Linked DNA regions of Homo sapiens. The protein of the gene in region 3 purifies or fractionates together with the protein of the main gene of each other region. This does not show direct contact. Each region holds a gene or a part of one and is shown on either strand. Other genes may lie near its edges.

Evidence for each region.
Region 1: the proteins of VGLL4 (region 3) and PEF1 purify together in Homo sapiens (co-immunoprecipitation; one large-scale study listed by IntAct). This does not show direct contact.
Region 2: the proteins of VGLL4 (region 3) and CEACAM21 purify together in Homo sapiens (co-immunoprecipitation; one large-scale study listed by IntAct). This does not show direct contact.
Region 4: the proteins of VGLL4 (region 3) and ZYG11B purify together in Homo sapiens (affinity purification with mass spectrometry; one large-scale study listed by BioGRID and IntAct). This does not show direct contact.

Annotation. Positions count from the first base shown.
Region 1 is NC_000001.11:31,633,342-31,639,431, forward strand, and holds part of PEF1 (peflin), read right to left. Parts: intron 2,182-6,090; coding exon 1,881-2,181; intron 1,603-1,880; coding exon of another isoform or gene 1,505-1,602; exon of another isoform or gene 1,325-1,504; intron 1,152-1,324; exon of another isoform or gene 1-1,151. UniProt on the Homo sapiens protein: Calcium-binding protein that acts as an adapter that bridges unrelated proteins or stabilizes weak protein-protein complexes in response to calcium.
Region 2 is NC_000019.10:41,578,717-41,584,806, reverse strand, and holds part of CEACAM21 (cell adhesion molecule CEACAM21 isoform 1 precursor), read right to left. Parts: intron 5,849-6,090; exon of another isoform or gene 5,735-5,848; intron 5,538-5,734; coding exon of another isoform or gene 5,455-5,537; coding exon 5,179-5,454; exon of another isoform or gene 5,175-5,178; intron 461-5,174; coding exon 364-460; intron 1-363.
Region 3 is NC_000003.12:11,562,491-11,568,580, forward strand, and holds part of VGLL4 (transcription cofactor vestigial-like protein 4), read right to left. Parts: intron 3,352-6,090; exon of another isoform or gene 2,530-3,351; coding exon 2,307-2,529; exon of another isoform or gene 1,796-2,306; coding exon of another isoform or gene 1,769-1,795; intron 1-1,768. UniProt on the Homo sapiens protein: May act as a specific coactivator for the mammalian TEFs.
Region 4 is NC_000001.11:52,815,542-52,821,631, reverse strand, and holds part of ZYG11B (protein zyg-11 homolog B), read right to left. Parts: intron 5,101-6,090; coding exon 5,003-5,100; intron 194-5,002; coding exon 3-193; 3' UTR 1-2. UniProt on the Homo sapiens protein: Serves as substrate adapter subunit in the E3 ubiquitin ligase complex ZYG11B-CUL2-Elongin BC. Acts to target substrates bearing N-terminal degrons for proteasomal degradation with the first four residues of substrates being the key recognition elements.

The DNA.
Region 1 (6,090 bases), on a different chromosome or scaffold from region 3:
ACAGAAATGCCAGGAAGGGCCAGCCTCAGTAACTTCCTGGCTACAGGTTTCTCCTACACACGAAGCTTCACAAATTCACCTTCCCTGTCTTCCATCAAGCTGACATTCTTACTCTGATGGAAGAGGACCTTCAGTGAAGATTCATGAGTATTTGCAGTTGATTTCTATTCCATGAGTCCTCTGGAGTTCTCGTATAGTGTTCCAGACACTACTCTTAATTGATTTTATGTTTTTAAGGAACGGGGACCTGTACCCCTGTAGCATTTCAAGAATTCTCTGGAAAAGGTAAACTGCGAGATGGGGGAATGGGTGGTAGATAAAAGTGTAGAAGTGGCCAGGCACAGTGGCTCACGACTGTAATCCCAGCACTTTGGGAAGCCGAGGCAGGCGGATCACCTGAGGTCGGGAGTTTGAGACCAGCTTGACCAACATGGAGAAACCCCGTCTCTACTAAAAATAGAAAATTAGCCGGGCATGGTGGCACATGCCTGTAATCCCAGCTACTGGGGAGGCTGAAGCAGGAGAATCGCTTGAACCCGGGAGGTGGAGGTTGTGGTGAGCCAAGATCACGCCATTGCACTCCAGCCTGGGCAACAAAAGCGAAACTCCATCTCAAAAAAAAAAAAACAAAAAAACCCAAAAAAAACAGTGTAGAAGCTGGTAAGTCTGTCTACCTTAGGACACTGAGTTAACTGGCCACAATCGGGGTCCCTTCACACAAAGACAGCCATGGGCAGTTGTGGAGGACAGAAACCACTGCCTAGTACCAAAGCCCAGTAAGGACAGAGGGAAAAAGGTATGCCTGACTTAGGGATTAGTCTGACTTCCTTGGAAAAATCCGGGCAGGTTCTAGCCATCTTCCTAAAACATCGGTGTCATAGGGGAGCAAGGGCCACAGCCCCAGGGCAGGAGAGATTCTGTGACATGTTTGAACTGTGTAGTTTGTATAGAAGGGCTCAGGCTTTGGAATCAAAGCAGACCTGGATTCAAACCCTGGATCTGATCCTTACTAGCTTGTGTGACTTTAGGCAAAATGTACAATTTTCTGAGTAATGATTTTCACATTTCTAAAATGAACCCATTTCCCCAGAATTGTTGTGATGATTAAATGAGATAACAGCAAAATAAAATCCTCAGCAAAGAGCCTGGAATGTGTGTCTTCTGAGATATTTTCACAGAGAAACGGATATTTAAACTGAGTTTCTCCCCATGGTAGGCTACATTATCGTCTCCTGGCTAATAATCTCTAGCCAGGAGACACAGTCTGCACACCCACAGACATTGTACTAATATGGTACAATGGTTTAAAAGGCCAGTTCAATAATCTATTATTAGATTACTTGCTAATCTCCCCTTCCCTATAAGAGCATTGTACATCCTCTCCCACTGCCTGGTGGCTTGCAGAGGGGCATCCTTTCCCATCCTACTGATGTCAGTCTTGATCAGGGGGTGCTCTGGCCAAAAGAATGCAAGTGGGCAAGACATACAGTACTTCAGAGAAGCTTTAAGAGGCATTGTGCATTCTTGCTAGCTCTCCTGCTCCTTCTCTCTGCCACAAAGATAACATATCCCAAACAGGAGCTGCTCCTTCAGCATGTATCCCTGAATGAAAAAGACACAGGGAACAGAAACTCAACAGCCAGCTAACAGCTGCTGACATGTAAGCAAAAGAAAGTAAGCATGAGCAAGCAATACAAATAAATGCTTGCAACAAAACTAGCTGACAAACTTATCATTTTGAGGATACACACTGAAGCTGGAAGCAAGATGCTAAGGTGCCAGAGACCAGGCTGCCTGCACACCCACAGGAAGGACAAAGGCTGGCCATGGATAACTCAGAACCACGTCAGAGGTACCCGGAGTCCAAGATTACTACTTACCCTGTCCATAAAGCCCAGGCTGCTGGGCACCGTAGGAACTTGGAGGTGGCTGACCATAGGGGCCCCCGGGAGCTGCACCGCCATATGGTCCTCCTGGAGTTCCAGAGGGGAACATCCCAGGATTGGGGTGTCCATAGGGCCCTCCACCAGCTGGTGGTCCATAAGGCCCTCCAGGGGCAGGACCCCCATAACCACCACCAGGGGGTAGCCCACTACCATACTGCCCTCCACTATTGGGGGGTCCAGGGTAGTAGCTACCCGGAGGGGCTCCTGGTGCTTGTCCTGCAGCTCCTGGGCAGCCCTGCAGGAAGAGCAAGATATCAGTCAGAATGATGAGGCCAGAAACTAGGCAGAGTATGGCACTTTACAACCATAAAGCACTTCCACCACCATCCTTTCAACTGATCCTATAGGTAGGGTTGGAATTATGATCTCACTGCTCAGATGGGCAAACTGAGGCTTCCAGAGGAGCAACGAGTTACCCAAAGTCACCCCGCCAATGACCTGCAGAGTCAGGGTTGAAATCCTCCTTTCCTAACTCTCCTTTCCTGCACATCAAGGGGCTCCACAAGGGCTAGGATCCTGTCTGGTTTGTCACTTTATCCCCAGCTCCCAGTGTAGAATGGATACTTGGTAAATATTTCCTGTATGAATGAATAGGCAAATGAATCAAACAGAATTCCAAATGCCCATCCTGTGGTACTCCCATCTCTATCTGCAGAACTCATGGGGCAAACGCAGTCTCTAACACACACCCCTGACCCTCATCAGTCACAAATGACATAGCTATAGCATGGATTCATCCACAGCATGTCTTCCTTACCCTGATGTAAAAACATTTCCCTATCCTCACTCACAACTCTGTGAGGCAGGCAGGGGAGACCCTATTCCTAAGGCAATACGATACAATGCTTTCAAAGGCCAGTTCAACAGCTAGGCGTGGTGGCTCACAGCTGTGTAATCACAGCACTTTGGAAGTCTGAGGCGGGCAGACTGCTTGAGCCCAGGAGTTAGAGACCAGCCTGGGCAACACAGAAAAACAACATCTCTACTAAAAACCTGGGCAACATAGAAAAACTACATCTCTATTTAAAAAATACAAAAATTAGCCAGGTGTGGTGGCGCACACCTATAGTCCCAATGACTCAGGAGGCTAAGGTGGGAGGATCACCTGAGCCTGGGGAGGTCGAGGCTACAGTGAGCCATGATCACACAACTGTACTCCAGCCTGGGTGACAGAGTAAGATCCGATCTCAAAACAAACAAACAAACAAAAAACAACCAGTTCAAGAGTTCAAGTTCAGGTTCTGCCATTTACTAACTGGACTGACTTATCCTCTCTAAGCCTCAACATCTTCTGCTATAAAATGGGAATAATAATAGCTACCTCTCAGGTTAGTTTGTGAATGAAATGAGGCCAGCTATGTGAAGCCCTTTGACATTGGGCCTGACACAAATTAAGCACTCAATAAACACTATTAATAATAGCCTCCTACAGAGGACAAGACTCAAGTCCAGGAAAGTCACACACAGGCTGTGTGGAGGGGCTGGGACCAGAACCTGGGTCTCTTGGCTCTATGTCCAGGGCATTTGTGCATTAGAGCATACATGGGGGCATTCCCTCTCTCATCCATCTTCCCACACCAGTAGCCCTCGGAGTGTTCCGCTCCATCTCCCTAAATGGCTAGCACAGGACCCAGCAGAGCACAGCCCCAACACATCTGCAGACAAGCTGAGCTCAAGGGCACAGACAGCAGCTAGGCCCAGCTCCGAGAACGGCACCATCTAGATACGTTCTAGATCAACCTGTAAGTGCACCAGTGGCCAAGCCACTGAGAGCCTGGGCTTTCTCTTTTTATTGTGTTTGATAGCTTGAAATAATTACTCTTAAGGCTAAGGCCAAATTCATGAGGTTTTTTTGTGGGGAGGGCAGGAAGCAGGCCCTGTCACCCACTCAGCAATCCTTGGGAGCTTTTCTACCCTAGAAGCTGTCATAGCTACTAGCAAGACTCCTTCACAGACAAGAATGGCTCACACAGATCTCAATTTAAAACTCTGCTCCCATCAGCTAAGTTCATGACTGTGGGCCCGTGGCTTCATCTCTCTGAGCCTGCTTCCTCACAAATAGAACAATTCCTTCCTCACTGGACTGTTCTGCAGATTATAAAAAATAAATGCAGCAAAATTCTGTCAGTTTAATTTTTAGCTAAAGAATCCTTTGATAACCAACCTGGGCAACATAGTAAGATCCCACCTCTACAAAAAATTTTTAAAAATCAGCCGGGCATGGTGGTACACATGTAGTCCCTGCTACTCGGGAGGCTAAAGCGGAAGGATCACTTGAGCCTAAGTTGGAGGCTGCAGTGAGCTGTGATTGTGCCACAACACTCCAGCCTGAGTAACAGAGGGAGACCCTGTCTCCAAAAAAAAAAAAAAAAAAAAAAAAGAGAGAGAGAAAGAAAGAATCCTTTGATAAAATAAATAAAACAAATACAAGAAAGTTGCTCTGGCTGAAGTAAGGTGGGAGCTCCAGAGCCCCTACAATATGGAACCCCCTCCCTTGCTACATTCTGAGGGGGCTCTGAAAACCCCTCACAGTGACTGAAAAGACAGTCTGAAAACCACTCACATAAGAAAAATAGTTTTTACAACAGTGCCTGGCATAAAGCAAATGATCAGTAAGTCATAGCTGCTATTGCTATATTAATTACTGTTATCAGCAAAGTCCTGGGCCAGGTGAACTGTGCGGGGTGGGGTATAAAGGAGAGTGAAGCAATCTGAAGGCACTCACAGTTAACAAGACTTAACATGTAGACACTGTGTAACGTCTAACAAAACAGCATAAGGAAAACAGGTGTTTGAAATGGAGACATAAGTCATGTGCCATAGGACTGCAAAGGAAGGAGGGTAAAATCAGGGAGTGTTTCCATGAGAGTGGCATTTGAGCTAGGACTTAGAGAACGAACAGGATTCCCAAGGGGTTGGAGAGGTGTGACAAGAGAAATACCCAGAAGACAAGTCACTTAACCTAACCCCCATTTTACAGATGGGGGAGGGAGGGAGGGACTTGCCCAAGTAATGCTGTGAGCTGGAGGAAGAGACAAGGCTGGACCACTCCCTTGCACCCAATGACTCCCCCTGCCTCCTGCTACAACACTCCTTCATTAAGCAATAGGGCTCAGGATTCCAGCATAGGATGGAAAGGGAGTGGGAACTCTGCAGAATCTGGGCACACCCAAAGAACAGGCCAGACACGAAGCCAGAAGTAGCTGCCCCACTATAAGCCCTGTGAGCAAAGCTATAAACCGCACCTGGCACCTAGGAAAACCCACCTAGGAAACCACCTATAAACCACCTAGGAAACATCCCCAGGCCAACAAAGCAGGTGCTGCCAGGCAGGTCTCCTGCCCTTCTGGCTATTGTAGTCTGGCAGCAATTAAACCCTTTCCTTTCTGTCCTGCATTTGAAGACCTCCTCTGTAGTTTACAAAGTACTTTCACAAACACAAACACTACAGGCAGAATCTTGCCAATGGCCTCCTAACAGAAAAAAGGAAGATGTTAGTTGCCCTCTTTTACAGATGAAGAAACTAAGCCACGGAGCTGTTAAAGGACTTCATTCAGCACGCATTTTCAGAGTGACAATATTGTACTAGGCTCTGTAGTAGATCTGAGGACACAAGTAAATGAAGTCCTGCCCTTAAGGGGCCCACAGATAATTGTGATACAATCTGATCAGTGCCATCAGAAAAATCTACTTATGTGCTATCAAGGAAGCTTAGATGGAGGAATTTGTGCTGTTTGCAGAATGAATAAATGAACAATGTATGAAGTGGGTCAAGGAAAGCTTCCTGGAGGAAGTGGCAGTGATATTGGAAATGGTCCTTGAAGGATGCATAGACATTTTCCAAAAGGCAGGCAGGGAAGGACACTCCAGACAGAAGAGAGAAGAAAGACAAACGCACAGACTTAAGAGTGAGCATAGTGCATTCAGGGAATGAGTTAAACCGCAGAGCCAAGAATGCAGTGTGAACCCAGAAAGGCAGGCCCTCTATACACTCGTTGACCAAGCACCTCTCCCCCTGCATTTCAGTTAGCCGTGAGGTATCAGTGTCTAAGAGTAGTTTCTGTCTAGCATCTCCCCCACCCAACAGTAAGCTCCCCAGGGGCAGACACTGCGCCTCACTCATCATGGCACCCCAGGGCCCAGC
Region 2 (6,090 bases), on a different chromosome or scaffold from region 3:
CCCAGGATCCCCCCTCAGATGCCCTCTCACTGGGTGGATGGATTCAGTGAACAGGGGGAGGTACCAGGTATTGAGCACCGCTCCCCCCTGCTCCAGGCAGCTGTGGCTTTGCTGTGCTAGGAAACTAGGACCATGCTCAGGGGCATGGCCTTAATTGGACTGAATTCACTGAGGACAAAGCTGTTGAGGAAGCAGCCCAGGGTCAGCAGCTGGTGAGGAAGGTGCCATGGAATGAGAGGGAAGGATCCCTGGGGAGTCGGGAGGCTGGGGAGAGCCTGGCACTGAATACAAGACAGGGTCTCCTTCCTTCTCGCCTGGGGTCAGCGTGAAGGATGGGAGCAGAATGGGGAAAAGCTGTGGTACCTGCCAGTTTTTCGGAGGAGCAGGAAACACACAAGTGCAGCCACCAGAAGACTCCCAACCAGGACCCCGATCAGGATGCCTAGAGTGTTGTCATCTGCTGAAAGAAGAAGGCAAAGGGGATGAGGTCCAAATCTGTTCCAGGGGGAACCATGAGGGGCCTTGCAGGGCAGGGGCATGGTCAGGGAGGAAGGAAATGCCATGGAGCCTGAGTGTGGTCTGTTGTGCTGTCCTCATAGCTGGCTCCCTTGCTCTCCGTGGTTGCACCATTTTCTGTGTCTTAGGCTTGAATTACTGGGATGCATCAACTCCTACATTCTCCCACAGGAAGCCTGCACCTCATCCTGCTCCTGTGTTTTTTAGTCCCTCCTTCCTCTCACATCACTCCTCTTCCCCCTGTTTCTTTTTTTCCATCCCATGGCAGTCGTAAAGGGCAGGCCCTTGCTGCCAACTCAATGCTGATGAGCAGGGATGATGTTCATTGACTGTTTTCAGGGGCCTTCCACATGGAAGGCACAGTGGGAATCAATCTACCTGCAGCTTTTCTCACCCTCCCATTGCCTTGAGGGAGAAGGGTATGTGATATTGTGAAATACGTATTTGGTGTTCATCACCATTGATATGGTTAGGCTCTGTATCCCCACCCAAATCTCACCTTGAATTGTAATAATCCCCATGTGTTATGGGAGGGACCTTGTGGGAGGTAATTGAATCATGAGGGTGGGTTTTTTCCATCCTGTTCTTGTGATAGTGAATAAGTCTCAGGAGATCAGATGGTTTCATAAAGGGAAGCTTCCCTACACATGTCCTCTTGCCTGCTGCCATGTAAGACATGCCTTTCACCTTCCATCATGATTGTGAGACCTCTCCAGCCATGTGGAATTGTGAATCAATTAAACCTCTTTCTTCATACATTACCAAGTCTCAGGTATGTCTTCATTAGCAGTGTGAGAATGGACTAATACAGTAAATTGGTACCAGCTAGTGGAGTGCTGCTATAAAGATACCTGAAAATGTGGAAGTGACTTTGGAACTGGGTAACAGGCAGAGGTTGGAACAGTTTGGAGGGCTCAGAAGAAGACACAGGAAAAAAGTTTGAAACTTCCTAGAGACTTGTTGAATGGTTTTGATTAAAACGCTGATAGTGATATGGACAATAAAGTCCAAGCTGAGGTGGTCTCAGACAGAGATGAGGAACTTCTTGGGAACTGGAACAAAGGTGACTCTTGTTATACTCTAGAAAAGAGATTGGTGGTATTTTGCCCCTGCCCTAGAGATCTGCAGAACTTTGAACTTGAGGGAAATGATTTAGGGCAACTGGTGGAAAAAAAATTCTAAGCAGCAAAGTGTTCAAGATGTGACTTGGGTACTGTTAAAAACACTCAGTTTTATGTATTTACAAAGGTATGGTTTGGAATTGGAACTTATGTTTAAAAGGGAAGCAGAGCATAAAAGTTTGGAAAATTTGCAGCCTGATGATGCAATAGAAAAGAAAAATCCATTTTCTGAGGAGAAATTCAAGCCAGCTGCAGAAATGTGCATAAACAATGAAGAGCAAAATGTTAATCCCCAAGACAATGGCAAAAATGTCTCCAGGGCATGTCAGAGACCTTCCTGGAAGCCCCTTCCATCACAGGACTGGAGGCCTAGGAGGAAAAAATGTTTCCTGGGCCAGGCCCAGGGCTCCCCTGCTGTGTGCGGCCTAGAGACTTGGTGCCCTGCATCCCAGCCACTCCAGCCATGGCTAAAGAGGGCCAAGGTACAGCTGGGGCCATGGCTTCAGAGGGTGCAAGCCCCAAACCTTGGCAGCTTCCATGTGGTGTTGAGCCTGCAGGTGCACAGAAGTCAAGGATTGAGGTTTGGGAACCTTCGCCTAGATTTCAGAGGATGTATGAAAATGCTTGGATGTCCAGGTGGAAGTTTGCTGCAGAAGCAGAGCCCTCATGGAGAACCTCTGCTAGGGAAGTGTTGAAGGGAAATGTGGGGTTGGAACCCCGACACAGAGTCCCTACTGGGGCACTGCCTAATGGAGCTGTGAGAAGAAGACCACAATCCTCCAGACCCCAGAATGGTAGATCCACTAACAGCTTGCACCATGCACCTAGAAAAGCTGCAGACACTCAACGCCAGCCTATGAAAGCAGCCAGGAGTGGGGCTGTACCCTGCAAAGCCACAGGGGTGGAGCCCAAGGCTATGGGAGTTCAGCTCTTGCATCAGTGTGACCTGGATGTGAGACATGGATACAAAGGAGATCATTTCAGAGCATTAAGATTTGGCTGCCCTGCTGGATTTTGGGCTTGCATGGGGCCTGTAGCCCCTTTGTTTTGGCCAGTTTCTCCCATTTGGAATGGTTGTATTTACCCAGTGCCTGTACACCCATTATATCTAGGAAGTAACTAAGCTTGCTTTTGATTTTACAGGCTTATAGGTGGAAGGGACTTGCCTTGTCTCAGATGAAACTTTGGACTTGGACTTTTGGGTTAATGCTGGAATGAGTTAAGACTTTGGGGAACTGTTGGAAGGCATGATTAGTTTTGAAATGTGAGGACATGAGATTTGGGAGGGGTCGGGTGGAATGACATGGTTTGGCTCTTCTTCACCCAAATATCACCTTGAATTTTAATAATCCCCACGTGTTGGGGGAAGGACCCAGTGGGAGGTAATTGAATCATGGGGGTGGATTCTTCCCATGCTGTTCTCATGATAGTGAATAAGTCTCACAAGATCTGATGGTTTTAGAAAGGGGAGTTCCTCTACACATGCCCTCTTGCCTGCCGCCATGTAAGACATGCCTTTTGCCTTCTGCCATGATTTCAAGGCCTCCCCAGCTATGTGGAACTGTAAGTCAATTAAACCTCATTTTTAAAAAAATTACCCAGTCTCAGGTATGTCTTTATCAGCAGCCAAGACCAGCTCGGTCGCGGAGATCCTAACCCAGCAGTGCTAGAGGAATTAAAGACACACATAGAAATATAGAGGTGTGAAGTGGGAAATCAGGGTTCTCACAGGCTTCAGAGCTGAGAGCCCCAAACAGAGATTTACCCACATATTTAATAACAGCAAACCAGTCATTAGCATTGTTTCTATAGATATTAAATTAACTAAAAGTATCCCTTATGGGAAACCAAGGGATGGGCCGAATTAAAGGAATAGGTTGGGCTAGTTAACTGCAACAGGAACACGCCCTTAAGATGCAGATTGCTCATGCTATTGTTTGTGGCTTAAGAACGCCTTTAAGCGGTTTTCCACCCTGGGTGGGACAGGTATTCCTTGCCCTCATTCCTGTAAACCCATAACCTTCCAGCTTGGGCATTAGGGCCATTATGAACATGTTACAGTGCTGCAGAGATTTTGTTTATGACCAGTTTTGGGGCCAGTTTATGGCCAGATTTTGGGGGGCTTGCTCCCAACAGACTAATACACCCATTTTCTGGTATGTGACTCTAAAGTCCTTAGAATCTTCAAAGTGATGTCTTTTTCAAGCTAATAATTGACTGATGACTGGCAGCCCCTAGGCAACTTCAGAATGAGGCTGGTCACTGACCCAGGTAGGATTAGAGGGTTGGGACTTTCAGCCTCACCCCTAATCCCTGGGGAGGGACCTGGAGTTTGAATTAATCACCAATGACCAATGAATCAATTAATGGCCAATGATTGAATCAATTAATGGCCAATGATTAAATCAATCATATCTATGTCATGAACCCCAAAAGGACTGGGTTTGAAGAGCTGAACCCATGGAAGTTTCTGGAGTGTGGTGCATCTGGGGAGGGCATGGAAGCTCCACACCCCTTCCCACATGCCATGCTCTGTGCATCTCTTCATCTGCATCCTTTGTAAAGTCCTTTATTACAAACCGGTAAGCCTAAGTATGTGTTTCCCTGAGTCCTGAGAGCTGTTTGAGCAAACTAATCCAACCCAAACAGGGAGTCATGGAAACCTCAATGTGAAGCCAGTCATAAGAAGCTCTGGAGGCCCAGACTTGTGACTGGTGGGAAGGTGGTGGCAATTTTGTGGGACTGAGCCCTCTGCTGATATGTCCAGGTAGATAGTGTCAGGATGGAATTGGAGGACACCTAGCTGATGTACGGTGCAGAACTGATTGGCTGCTGGGTGTGTGGGAGAAACCCCCCCCCATCACATTTGGTCACAGAAGTGTGTCTGTGTTGATGATTGTTATTGTGGAGTGAGAGCAGAGGAAAAACACAGTTTGAGTTTTTCCAAACAGGGTGGAATCCCATCTGCCAATTTAGAATCTGAAACTTATAGTTTCAGTACTTCAATTAAGATTGAAGTACTTCAATTCAGTACTTCAATTAAGATTCAGTACTTCAATTAAGATTCAGTACTTCAATTAAGATTACAGAACTGGTAAGTGAAAGTGATACAACAAAAATGTAACCAAAGTCTGCTCAACTTAACAGCTAATAACAACAAAGTTCATAAAAATAATACCAGTCGATATTGATAGCACTGATTGAGCCCTGGCTCTGTGCATGACCTTGTTAAGGGCTTTAATCGCATTAATCTCTGAATAAATATCCTCACAACCACCCTGAGGTCCAGGTGTTTGTAACAATTCTACAGATGAGGAAACTGAGGCCCAGGAGGTTGAGTGTCTTGCCCAAGGTCAAATACCTGGTACCTATTGTAACCAGGATGATAACTGGATGAGTCTAATCCCTGAGTTCTTACCCACATTGCTCCCCAGGCTCTGAAGGAATCTCATCCTTCTCATTCCGTGTATCATTTTACACCCCCCCTCCCTCCTAGGAAAATATACAAGGAAAGGAGTGAGAGGGGCCGAGGGTCACTCACATTTTACAGTCAGCTTGAGGGGGTCGCTCCTGTTGGAGCTGACTGGGTTGGAGACCTCACACTGATACTCCCCAGCGTCCTCCTGCCTGATGGGGTCTATGGTGAGCACATGGTTAAACCAGGACAGCTTCATCCTCTTCGTGACCTGCAGACGCTGGTTGTTGAAAATCCACTGGAAAGAGGTTCCAGTGTTATTTGTGTGGCAGGTCAGGACCACGGAGCCCTTCTCTGTGACTGTGGTGCTGCTGGCTTGGATGGAGGGCTGAGCCACTGACTCTGTGGATAGAGTGACCAACAGAAAGTGTCTTGGGGCCATGCTGCATCCTCAGAGATCTCAGAGTCAAATTTAGAACATTCTCCTGTGAATAAAGGAGAAAGATGAAGGACAGGGAGGAGCAGAGAGAACCAGAGACACCCATAGCAGCGAGCAGTAGGGACTACAGTGACCTCAGAGACCCCAGGGACCAGGAGGACCCAGCTGCCTCAGACCAGGACCAGGGAGCCCTGAAAACCCTCCCACAGATGAGCGGCCCCAGAGTCACATGAGATGCAATACCTGGGGTGGCTTTAGGAGCAGGCAGTCAGAGAAATGGAACATGGGTCTCAGCCCCTAAGGGACAAGGAAGAGGTGTGGCCAGCTCCTCCTAGGATCCTACATCCAGGACCCAGTCTGTAAAGAGGTTATGATTATTCCTTTCTTTTTTCATTAATTCCCTCCCTCCTTCATCAGAGAACTACTGAGTGTGTGTCTCAGTTGGGCCTTGTGCAGGTACAGGGTGTAGTGGGAAGAGAAAGCTGAGTCCTTTCCTTCATCCTCCCATGGGAGTGACATCAACAAATCAAGAAATTCATGATTTCACGTCCAGTGAGGGAAGGAATGTGGATCTGATGGGAGAGGCTTGGACAATCCTG
Region 3 (6,090 bases):
CTCCCCACTGCCATTTCCCTGGCTCTGAGCTGCAGGATGACACCCAACAGACTTCCAGGAAGAGACCTCGGAGCTGCTGGAGCACAGGCAACGTGGCTGCTTGGTGTCCTCAGCAGGGCGCCCGAGCCCAGCTCGGATTGGTGTGCATGGCCTCAGCCCCGCCACGCTGCCGCAGGAAGGAGCCCCACGAATGGTTACGACATGAATGACATGTGCTGACAGCAGCCACGGCAAGGAGGGCAGGACTGACCAACCCCAGCCGAAAATGACAGCTCCGGTCAGGGCCACTGTGCCCTTCCCAGGAAAATGGGCAGCTTGGGGTACCCCGTGGCCCCTGGCTTTGTCCTCAGTCCAGGCCAGGATCCCATAAAGATATAGCTGGGGGGTCGAGGTTCTTCCTCCTAGGAAAGCTGCTCAGGAGCCCCAAGGCACAAGGAGGGGCCCTTGCCACGTGTGCCGTGGGCAGCCAGGCCCATTCCAGGCTGGGGAGAGGGAGACAGGGTAAAGAGAGTCAGGCCACTCTGTTCAGCAGTTCAGTTTTTGCAAAGCAACTGTGACCGAAAACCAACTGCAAGATTCTCAAGAGCCCTGAAGAGTCAAGGAAATAAATCATCCAAGAACACACTAAGCCCGCCAAGGGCCCACCCTGACCATGTGGGCAGAGATAGCTTGTAAGGCTCACAGTTATGTCCCCCAGGTCATCAAGGGCCAGAGGCTGGATGTGGGTGCTCCGAGATTACAGCTGAATCCTCCCCTCCATACCCGTGTCCTTCAGGGACTCCCCAACAGCAGTGGCAATGGCCAGAGAGCCAGGTTCTGCCTGCACGGTTCAGGCCATGGCTCATGGCAGCATTACAATGCCTGTTGAGCTTCCCAAAGCAGAAAGGTCCACTGCCCACCCCGGGGAGCAGTGAGCGGGTCCCTGTGGGTCGCACTGCGCACACGCCTCTGTTCCAGCCCCTGCTGCTGCCCAACAGCACAATCCTCTCTTCTCATGTCCATTTCCCCAATTAGACTGGGAGCTCCCTGTGGCCGTGACAGTGTCCACACACACGTCTCTGGCTGCCCACAGCTCTGCTCTGCAGAGGGCTGGGTAAATGGTGAGCGCTCGTAAAACGTTGAAATGAACAGCAGTGATAACTTGGCCTCGGGTTCCATCAGACACATCAGCGATCTCTCCTCCAGACTAAAACTGAGCGTGCTGAGAACAAAAACTGCATCTTGCTTGACTGGCTTCTGGTACCCCCTGGCACACAGCAGGGGTCTGTGCCATTTTGTTAAATGGATGAATCAAACAAACAGGATTACCATGTCAGGCTCTGAGGCAAGATGGGCAACTGTTCTCAGCTTCACCAGGATTCCCAAGCACCAGAACCACCTCTCCCAACTCCCAGGGCCTACCCCACCCACAGTTTCAACAGACCCCATCAGACACGGACACCAGGCAGTGCCACTTGGAGGGAAGCCCCGGTGAGGCCACAGGGACACAGAGGCTCTTGCAGCTGAATGCACAGAGCCCGGAGGCACCCCCTCGGGGCACGGCACCATCCTCTCTGTCAGTCTTAGCAAATGCTGACTACTGACTAAGGACCTATTAGGTCGCAGTCCCTGGAGATTCGGAGAGCTCAAGCAGTAATTTTGAGCCTCCTCAATGCTGCTGCCTTCTCCCATATATTTCCCCAGGAACCCCATTTTTAAAAAGATTTGTTTCTACCAAGCAAGCTGTGTTTATTAAGCAATCATTTAATTTCCTATTTTCCTTTCATAGAAAAAAATCCCTATGTACCAATCATAGGCTTCTGACCAGCATGGGCTCACAACCCTGTGACCATCAACTGTGCAGGACCCCAGCCCAAGGCAAAGCAACCTGACATTTCCCTTCATCCGCGTGACCGTCTAAAGGAGAAACGTAGGACCCCCCCACCCGAGGATGACTACATTCATCCTAAGAGAATCAGGCCTGCCACAGAAGACTGCTGGAGGAAACACCTCAGTACACCACCCCTGTACTGGGAGAGGAAAGAGATGAAGCCCCAGTGACATTCACCTTGCCCAAGGCCGTGAGTGCTAAGAGGCAAGGCCCGGGCAGGTCTGGGCAGGAAGTAAAAGCAGAAGAGGACTCCTGTTCTGCTGTCCCTTGTCCCAAGTGCACAACAGAGGCGAAGGGTGGCATCCCTCACCACCTCCCTCCCTCACCACCTCCCTCCCTCACCACCGCCCTCGGAGTCCTCTGCTCGGGGCTCTCCATCCAGCCCAGTCCCCCAGCCCCTGGACTCCCCACGCCACCCTCCCAGACAGAGGCCCACCTGCTGCCGCTCCCCCGGGGTCAGTGTGGGCGAGAGGCCGGCTGGCCTGCTGGCGTCCAGGCTGTTCTTGGTCAGTGCGAGGGGCTGCTCCAGGCCAAGGCTGGGGAGGGAGGTGTACAGGTGGCTGCCGTGCAGGCTCATGGTGGGGGCCACAGCGCGCTCGATGGGGCTGCGGCTCCGCTCCCGGGGGTCTCTGCGGCAGTCTCCATTGGCAGTCTTGTTCCTGAAAAAGAGGAATGGGCATTCAGGGGGCGTTTTCTCAAAGGCAAAGGGGACAGTGACTGTGCGCCAGGCACTCCGTGTTGCTTATTTAATTTTTTACCCTGAAGCTCAGGTCGTGTGGCTGGGCAGCACGATGAGGAGCCGGTTGCCAGCCCGGGTCAGCCGGACACCAAAGCCTCTGGGTGCCGGAGAAGCTGCTGCCAGCGGAGTCCAAAGTCAGCTCCATAGAAGATGGAGCCCCCGACTCAGTGGCGTCCTCTGCCTGACTCTGTGTTCACTTCTATAATAATCTCCACTCCCTGGGAGCCTGGGGAGCTGGAGGCCAAGCTGGTTCGATAAGGACCTGCCATTTGGACAGGACGGGGACGCTGACAACGATCCAGAGTCACTGGCTGCGTCCTACATGCAGGGCCCTATTCAAAGCCTCCACAGCACTGCTCAGCCCATCTTCCTCACAGTACTGCTCAGCCCGTCTTCCTAACAGCACTAAGCAGGCAATGCTGCCACCATCCCCTTTCCAGACCAGAACCCCAAGACTCAAGAGTGGTGGAATAATCAGCTCAGACTCCCAGCTGACATGTGGTGGCACGTGCTCTGGGGTTCCCGGGGTGCTGTAGGGAGCCGGCGCGCAGCTCTCTCGTCCAGGACACACGAGCAGGAGTGACCTGCGTCCAGAAGGTCCATCACTAGCCCTGGCCATGTGCTGAGCACCCAGGCGATGCCACGTGGAATCCAGGTGAGACAGTCAGCACCACCTCCATCTGATGTGTTAGTCTGAAGGCAGCGTTACGTGTTGCATCTATTAGACACCAACCCCACACAGGTAAGCCATGGCCAGCCCTGGTCCACCCTCCCTGCTTTATTCCAGGGGTCCCACAGTTCCATCTGCCTTGGGTCTTGCCCCTTCAATCCACCATATTATCCGCTGACAGAGTAACCTTTTTCCGTAACTCATGAGCTGGTCATTTAAAGAAAAAGGTGGTGAATTATGATTTGAGTGAATTTTAAGAAATACAAATTATTTTCAGAGTCTACAAGTAGTCACCTGTCTTAACTAGCAGAAAAGCCTAGGCCTGCCCTGGTGAAGCAGCAGCCACAGCCCCCGTCCCGGACTGGCTGAATATGTTACACACACAATGAATGTTACACACACAATGTTACGCATGCACACAGAATGTTACACACACACTGAATGTTACACACACGCACACCACACACACACACGCATGTGATAGGCGTACCTTTCTAAAACTGTAGATTAACTTCAGTTGTAAGAAACAACACACGGCCATCCCATGCACCCTTTACCTTGACTCCCGCGATGGTGACATCTTGTAAAACTACAGTACAATATCACAACCAGGATATCGACAATGAGACAACTACCAACCTTATTCAGATTTCGTGTTTTGCTTGTATCCATTCCAGAGCAATCTCTTTATAAGGCAAATCCAACCACATCCAGCCCTTAGTGAATGTTTTTAGCAGCTCAGCACGGGCCTTGGTAGCCTCTGGGCCTGACCACCTTCCCGTCCTCATCTCTGGCTTCACGCCTCCAAATGTTGTGTTCCGTAGTTCCAACCATCTACTTGCCATTCCTCAAATAAGATGCGGCCACTCTCTGCCTCTGTGGCTGTGTACACGCGGTGCCGCTCTAGCCTCCCTCCTCCCCGTCCTGCGCTGCCAACCACAGCTGCAGTGTAGAATCCCAAGGCGCCCCGTGCAAACCTTTAATACAGAATCCATCCCCCACCGTCAATGATCTCTTCGTCTACGCACCCGCCCCTCCTCACACACGGCAGCCTCTGAGGGCGTCGAGTCCCTCCTGTCTCATTACGCTTGCTACCAGGGGTGCACAGAGACTTAACGGGTGAATGAAGAGAAGCAGCATATGGGTGACCGTGTAAGAAAGGCAGGTATCGTGGAGTGGAACTGTGGGTGGGCAGAATCATGGAGAGCTGGAGGGCTGAGGAGTCAACTGGAGGCGCATTCAAGCCTTTAGATGGACCCTGCGGCCCAGTCGGTGAGCTGCTAAGGGCTGAGCAGGAGAAGCACCAGAGGGGGCCTGAGTGCAGCCTCGGCTGTGATGTTGTGATGTCATTCTGCGCCATCTCCAGCAGGGGCACGCGCTCAGCTTAGTGACCCGAGGCGTTCCGAGCCTCGGCGTCCCCATGTAACCATGTGGTCACAGTAAGATCCACCCAGAGGACTCTAAATGGGGGACAAACAGCACACAAACAAAAACAATCAGAGCGGCGCAGTGCAGCCCTCAGTGAGCGCCAAGAGAACCCTGTCAGCCCTAAACCGAGTATATTGATTATAGGGTGATTAGCTGTACAGGACCCAGTATTCGTTTATGGGGTTTTTTTCTTCCCCTTTATTTTCTGGCTGATGATACAGAATATCTTAAAAGCAATTAAGGATTAAATGTTCAGCCCATTAAGACAATCATGGAAGAGAATGTTCTGGCAGAGTCTAGATAGTAGGTTCCATCCACGCCACACACATCCTGGCGATTTTCAAAACGTTAAAATACTAAAAACCTTAATACTGAAACCAGCCTGTCCATAATGTCATCTGTCTGTGGCGATTCAGAAGACAGCACAGGTTTCTGCAATGAATGCCTCAAGGGTTATGATCCCAGACACCGATGTCACCAGAAGACCTTCCGCGGAACGGACGTCAGGCCAAGCAGTCCTGAGATCTGCTGGCTTCTACCTAAACGGGACTTGGTTCCTGAATACTCAGTTCATCAGTGTCACCACACATCCTCATCTTCAGTGTCCCGCTCCCTTCTAAATTCAGATAAAGATACAATTTTATTGTTAACAACATGAGTGAATGGCTTCTCTCCACCCCAGGTGATGCTTCCACGGGCCACTTCATGAAGTGCATAGACCTGGGGGCTCATGTCCCAGATTCAGGAGAGCCTCAGACACAGTCTGCCTCCGAATTTAGACGTCTGTTTACTCAACCAGCGCTAGTTAAGTCCCTGTTCTGTGGAGGTTCCAGAACTGCAGGGTTACAGCCCTGCCTTCTCATGGGCTTACAATCTAGCAGGGACAGAAAGGCCCGGGAGGGGCTGCAGCTCCCAAGTGACAGCTCTGGATCCGGGCAAGGATAAAGACACCCCCGGGTGGCATGGAGGAGCAGACTAAAGGTCAGGCGTCTGCCCATGTCCAAAGCCAAAGTCGTGGTACATAAGGCACTGCCCACCCCTCGCACCTTATGTCCTAGGGGCACGGCACAGTCACGCAGATGACTCAGCTGCGCCTTAGGAAATCCAAGCATGACTATGAGACCACATCACAGAGGAAAGGGGTGCCAGGGCCGCCAGCTGCCAGGGCAGAGGTAAGGACGGGGCAGCCCTGCACCTAAATCTGCCATCTATGCTCCCACAGCCCCACTGTGCGCCCACCCTACGCAGGGCAGCAGGGAGAAGGGGACTTCCAGGCCCACTAACTGGAAAGACAGTCCGTGGAACACAGCACAGTGGGCACTATGGGTCAGACAAAGACACTGAAAACAGCGAGAAAAGGCCTGGAGAACTGGCTGGTTAATT
Region 4 (6,090 bases), on a different chromosome or scaffold from region 3:
TATCAATTTAGTCTGGCTTGGGGCTGTTTTTTACAGGGAGGTGGCCTCCCATGGCGCACAATGTGTTTTTCTAAGCTATCCAGAATGGCCACAGCAATCTGTTGGACATGGGGATCAGTATGTTCATGATCTTTGATGTTGTATAAATGCTGCAATCCTCCTTCTTCAATCAGCATGCTGCAATACCTTGAAGCTGAAAAAGAAAAAAAAACACACACAAAACAGGAGAAATAGCTTTTCTTAAAACACTTGAAAATTATTCCACAAAAAAATGACTTCTAGGAGCCATTTTTTTTTAGCTGTTTTGTTATTGATCACTAACATGCTACAGCTTGATAAATAACCTCTATACTGATGTTACGTCTACAGTGCAAGGCCTACACATTCAATCAATAAATAGCTAGCTTGATTTTTCTAACCTCAAGACATGTACAACCTGTATTAAAAAAATAAAAACAATCATAACTACCTTATCTTTGACCCAAAATCACAGGTAAGTGTTGTTATATTTTTATGCATTTCCTATGCTTTTTTTTTTTTTTTAGACAGAGTCTTGCCCTGTTGCCCAGGCCAGAGTACAGTGGCGCAATCTCGACTCACTGCAGCCTCCGCCTCCTGGGTTCAAGCGATTCTTGTGCCTCAGCCTGGAAATACAGGCACATGCCACCACCCCTGGCTAATTTTTTTATTTTTAGTAGAGATGGGGTTTTACCATGTTGCCTAGGCTGGTCTCAAACTCCTGCCCTCAAGCAATCCTCCCGCCTCAGCCTCCCAAAGTACTAGAATTACAGGCATGAGCCATAATGCCAGGCTGCATTTACTATGCTTTTTAAAAACTTAATGGCACTCATACTGCACATACAATTTTTAAATTTTTGAAATATTTTATTAGCCTTTTTTTTTTTTTTTTTTTTTTTAAAGACAGTCTCATTCTGTTGCCCAGGCTGGGGTGATCATGGCTCATGCCCAGTGGTGTGATCATGGCTCACTGCAGCTTGCTGTGTTGCCCAGGCTGGAGTCCAATGGCACAATTTTGGCTCACTGCAACCTCTGCCTCCCGGGTTCAAGCAATTCTCCTTCCTCAGTCTCCTGGGTAGCTGGGACTATAGGCACCAGCCACCACACCTGGCTAAATTTTTGTATTTTTGGTAGAGGTGGGGTTTTACCACGCTGGCCAGTCCAGTCTCAAACTCCTGACCTTAAGTGATCTGCCTGCCTCAGCCTCCCAAAGTGCTGGGGTTACAGGTGTGAGCCACCACACCCAGCCACATTAAAACATTTTAATACAAATAGAAGTGAATTCCATTTAAATATAAACAAAATAAGCCCACAAGGTAGGAACCTAAACTATCTGAGTTGGAGACAAAATATTCTAATATTCCCCAAATTACAGTGCATTTTAGAATAAATTATTCAGGGGCTGGGCGTGGTGGCTCACACCTGTAATCCCAGCAGTTTGGGAGGCCGAGGCGAGCAGATAACGAGGTCAGGAGATCGAGACCATCCTGGCTAACGTGGTGAAACCCCGTCTCTACTAAAAATACAAAAAAATTAGCCAGGCGTGGTGGCAGGCGCCTATAGTCCCAGCTACTTGGAAGGCTGAGGCAGGAGAATGGCGTGAAGTGGGAGGCGGAGCTTGCAGTGAGCCGAGATCATGCCACTGCACTCTAGCCTGGACGACAGCAAGACTCCGTCTCAAAAAAAAAATAAAATAAAATAAAATAAATTATTCAGGGCTGTCATTCCATAGAGTAAAACCTAAATAACTCTAATACCTAAAAGTAGTGACAAAAATAAATACTCATATGAAAATGCACTATTATTATTATTATTATTATTTTTTTTTCAGACAGAGTCTCACTCTGTCGCCCAGGCTGAAGTGCAGTGGTGCGATCTCGGCTCACTGTAACCTCCACCTCCCAGTTCAAGTGATTTTCCTGCCTCAGCCTCCCTAGTAGCTGAGAGTACAGATGTGTGCCACAACCCACAGCTAATTTTTTGTATTTTTAGTAGAGATGGGGTTTCACCATGTTAGCCAGGATGGTCTCGATCTCCTGACTTCGTGATCCACCCGCCTTGGCCTCCGAAAGTGCTGGGAATACAGGCGTGAGCCACCATGCCCAGCCAAAAATGCACTATTATTTACTTATTATGTTTTATTTTCTCCTACTGAGCTGTGAAAGGTCCATTCCTTGAGTTATGAGGAAAGGAACCTATAGATTAGAGACTGGGAATATGATGGGATCAACTGTTAAGAAATTTGGGAGTCCTCAGAACCTGTGGGTACAGTAAAAAGAAAACGACTTTAGGGCAGAGACAGTTTAATGTAGCTAAAGAGGCAGTTTTCGATTTATGAGTGAACAACTCTGCTTCTGGGTAATGTAGTAGGAAGGACCGGATAAGCCTCCAGGTGGGAGTTCAGGTGGGTACAAGGCAGTTTTCTCGGTCACATCCCATTCATTGAATTATTCTTCTTTATCTGACACAGAAGAGCTTTTACTGCATTGCCTTTTTGTGGTATGCAGTGAGTTTTCATCAAACAATACAAGAGAAGGAGCTGGGTGCGGTGGCTCATGCCTGTAATCCCAGCACTTTGAGAGGCCAAGGCGGGTGAGTTCGAGACCAGTCTGGCCAAAATTGTGAAACCCAGCCTCTACTAAAAATACAAAAATTAGCTGGGCATGGTGGCGTGTTCCTGTAGTCCCAGTTACTCGGGAGGCTGAGGTAGGAGAAATGCTTGAATCTGGGAGGTGTAGGTTGTGGTGAGCTGAGATCGTGTCACTGCACTCCAGCCTGGGCAACAGAGTGAGACTCCGTCTCCAAAAAAAAAAAAAAAACCCAAGCGAAAATCTCACTAAATGTTACTACTTCTGCTATAAGGATATTAGTAAAAACAACTCTCACATATCCTATATAAGGCCCTTTATAGTATGTCCCCTATTAAGGTCCAATAGAAGAAATTTAATTCATAGTTAACTTCTCATAAAAAATTCTCTCCCCTCCCCATCTCCCCTGACAAGGATATGGAATGTTTCCCTCTTATATGGAGAACCATGTCGCTTTTTACTTGCAGCAGAGCCACAAAAATCCCTATGCATGGCCTACAAGTCTACATTTGACTATTTTCCCTCTATCCTAGAATTTTTTTTTTTCTTTTTGAGACAGAGTCTCACTCTGTCACCCAGGCCAGAGTGCATGGTGCCATCACAGCTCACTGCAGCCTTGCTTTCTGGGCTCAGATGATGCTGCCACCTCAGCCTCCCAAGTAGCTGGGACTACAGGAGCACACCACAACACCTGGCTAATTTCTTTTACATCTTTTATAGAAACTAGGTTTCGCCATGTTGCCCAGGCTGGTCTCAAACTCCCGGGCTCAAGCGATCCACTCACCTCAACTTCAGAAAATGCTGGGATTATAGGGATGAGCCATTATGCCCGGCCCCTATAATTTTTGAAAAATTATTTTTCCTTACTTCTAATTAAAACTAAAAGTAGGCCAGGCACAGTGGCTCACACCTGTAAGCCCAGCACTTTGGGAGGCCGAGGTCGGTGGATCACCTGAGGTCAGGGGTTCAAGATCAGCCCAGCCAAAATGGTGAAACCCTGTCTCTACTAAAAATACGAAAATTAGCCAGGTGTGGTGGTGCAGGCCTATAGTCCCAGCTACTCTGGAGGTTGAGGCAAGAGAATCGCTTGAACCTGGGAGGTGGAGGGTGTGGTGAGCCGAGATCGCACCACTGCACTCCAGCCTGGGTGACAAAGTGAGACTCCATCTCAAAAAAAAAAAAAAAAAAAAAAAAAAAAAAAAAAAAAAAATATATATATATATATATATATATATATATATATATATACACATATATATACACACTTTACTATTAAAGTGGTTCTGTGTATTTCTTGTGTCAAATCATTTGTGGAATGAGTTTATATTAATAAATAATTAGGCCACGCTTGATGGCTGACGCCTGTAATGCCAGCACTTTGGGAGGAAGAGGCAGGCAGATCGTTCGAGCCTAGGAGTTTGACACCAGCCTGGCCAACATGATGAAACCCCATCTCTACAAAAAATACAAAAAAAAGCCAGGTATGGTGACGTGCACTTGTAGTCCTAGCTACAAGCTGAGGCAGGAGGATCATCTGAGCCTGGACGTCAAGGTTGCAGTGAGCTGTTACTATGCCACTGCACTCCAGCTCCAGTGATAGAGACAGACCTTGTCTCTAAATAAATAAATAAGAGTTACATCGTAGCTTTCAAAGAATAATATAGAACCTGATTCAAACACTTTGCTTCTTCAGAAACCATGGGTGCTGGCAGCGACATCTTGAACAACAGAATTTTGGGTGAATGAGAATTGGGCACCGGAATGTACCATAAACAGTGGATCTACTTAAGACCTTTTACTCAACAAATGGACTCACTGTAGTCTCCTAATCTTTAAATTCCTTGAGGTGAGAACAGTGTCTCATTCACCACTATTATTCAGTGTCTAGTTACACCATGCTCATTCTGAAAGAATACCTTAAGTTGGCCGGGCACAGTGGCTTATGCCTGTAATCCCAGCACTTTGGGAGGCTTAGGCGGGCGGATCACCTGAGGTCAGGAGTTTGAGACCAGCCTGGCCAACATGGTGAAACCCCGTCTCTACTAAAAAAAAATAATAATAATACAAAAATTAGCCGGGCATGGTGGCAGGTGCCTGATATCTCAGCTACTCGGGAGGCTGAGGCAGGAGAATCGCTTGAACCCAGGAGGCGGAGGTTCCAGTGAGCCGAGATCGCGCCACTGTACTCCAGCCTGGGGAACAAGAGCGAGACTTCGTCTCAAAAAAAAAAAAAAAAAAAAAAAAAGAATACCTTAAGTTTATAACCTAAGATGGCCTTACATTTTAAGTCAGTGTTCTTAAAAATCACTTTAATACACAATTTAGAAATATCTTTCCTGGGAAATGAGAATTTCACTTAAAGAAAAAAAACACAGTTCTTTTTTTTTGGTACATACGATTCTTGCTGCAGACATGTTGCATGGCCCAAACTGCCCATAGCTGAACTCCTGGTGTTGTGAAACAGCCAAGTAATGGGAAAAATGGATTAAAGGACCTAAAGGTTCAAAAGAAAAGAATCAAAGTTACATCCCATATTTAGCGTAATTTCCTAAAGCAGTGATTCCTAAACTTTTCATTTTCAAAATTTTATCCTATTATATTTAGACTAATATAAATGAGCTATAGAATATCATTTCTTTGTCTTAACCATTTCAGAGAAGACTGCATTCAGACATGACTCAGTACAGAAGATGGAAGGTGATTAGAACATGGTAGTGAAAGAGAAAAAATTTTTCCAAAAGCACTTTTTAGTCTTAAAGATACACATTTGAAGATAAGTAGATCTTGGTTTGGAAACTAAGAAATAGAGAAATTAGGTGATAACTAACTAGTAGAACACTATGAAAAAGATGTATAATTATCCCTTCTATTTTCTACTGGTCTGAATAAAAATAGGTGGAACATAAGTTGGAGAAATAAAAAAAATGTTGGCAACATCAGCATTTATGAACCAAACAAAAAAAATAAGTTGAATAAAAATTAAATACTTCAGGTAATTAGTAATTTAATTATCAAGTTATCTAATTACAAACAGAGTTAGGCATCCAGTATGCACTTCTTAATTTTTGTTATTTATTTATTTATTTATTTTGATACGGAGTCTCGCTCTGTCGCCCAGGCTGGAGTGCAGTGGCGCGATCTCAGCTCACTGCAACCTCCGCCTCCTGGGTTCACGGCATTCTCCTGCCTCAGCCTCCCAAGTAGCTGGGACTACAGGCGCCTGCCACCACGCCCGGCTAATTTTTTTGTATTTTTAGTAGAGACGGGGTTTCACCACGTTAGCCAGGATAGTCTCGATCTCCTGACCTCGTGATCTGCCCGCCTCGGCCTCCCAAAGTGCTGGGATTACAGGCATGAGCCACCATGCCCGGCCTATTTATTTATTTTTACATTTATTTATTTATTTGAGACAGGGTCTCACTCTGTTGCTCAGGCTGGAGTGCAGTAAGGCGATCTCAACTCATTGCAGCCTCAACCTTCCAGG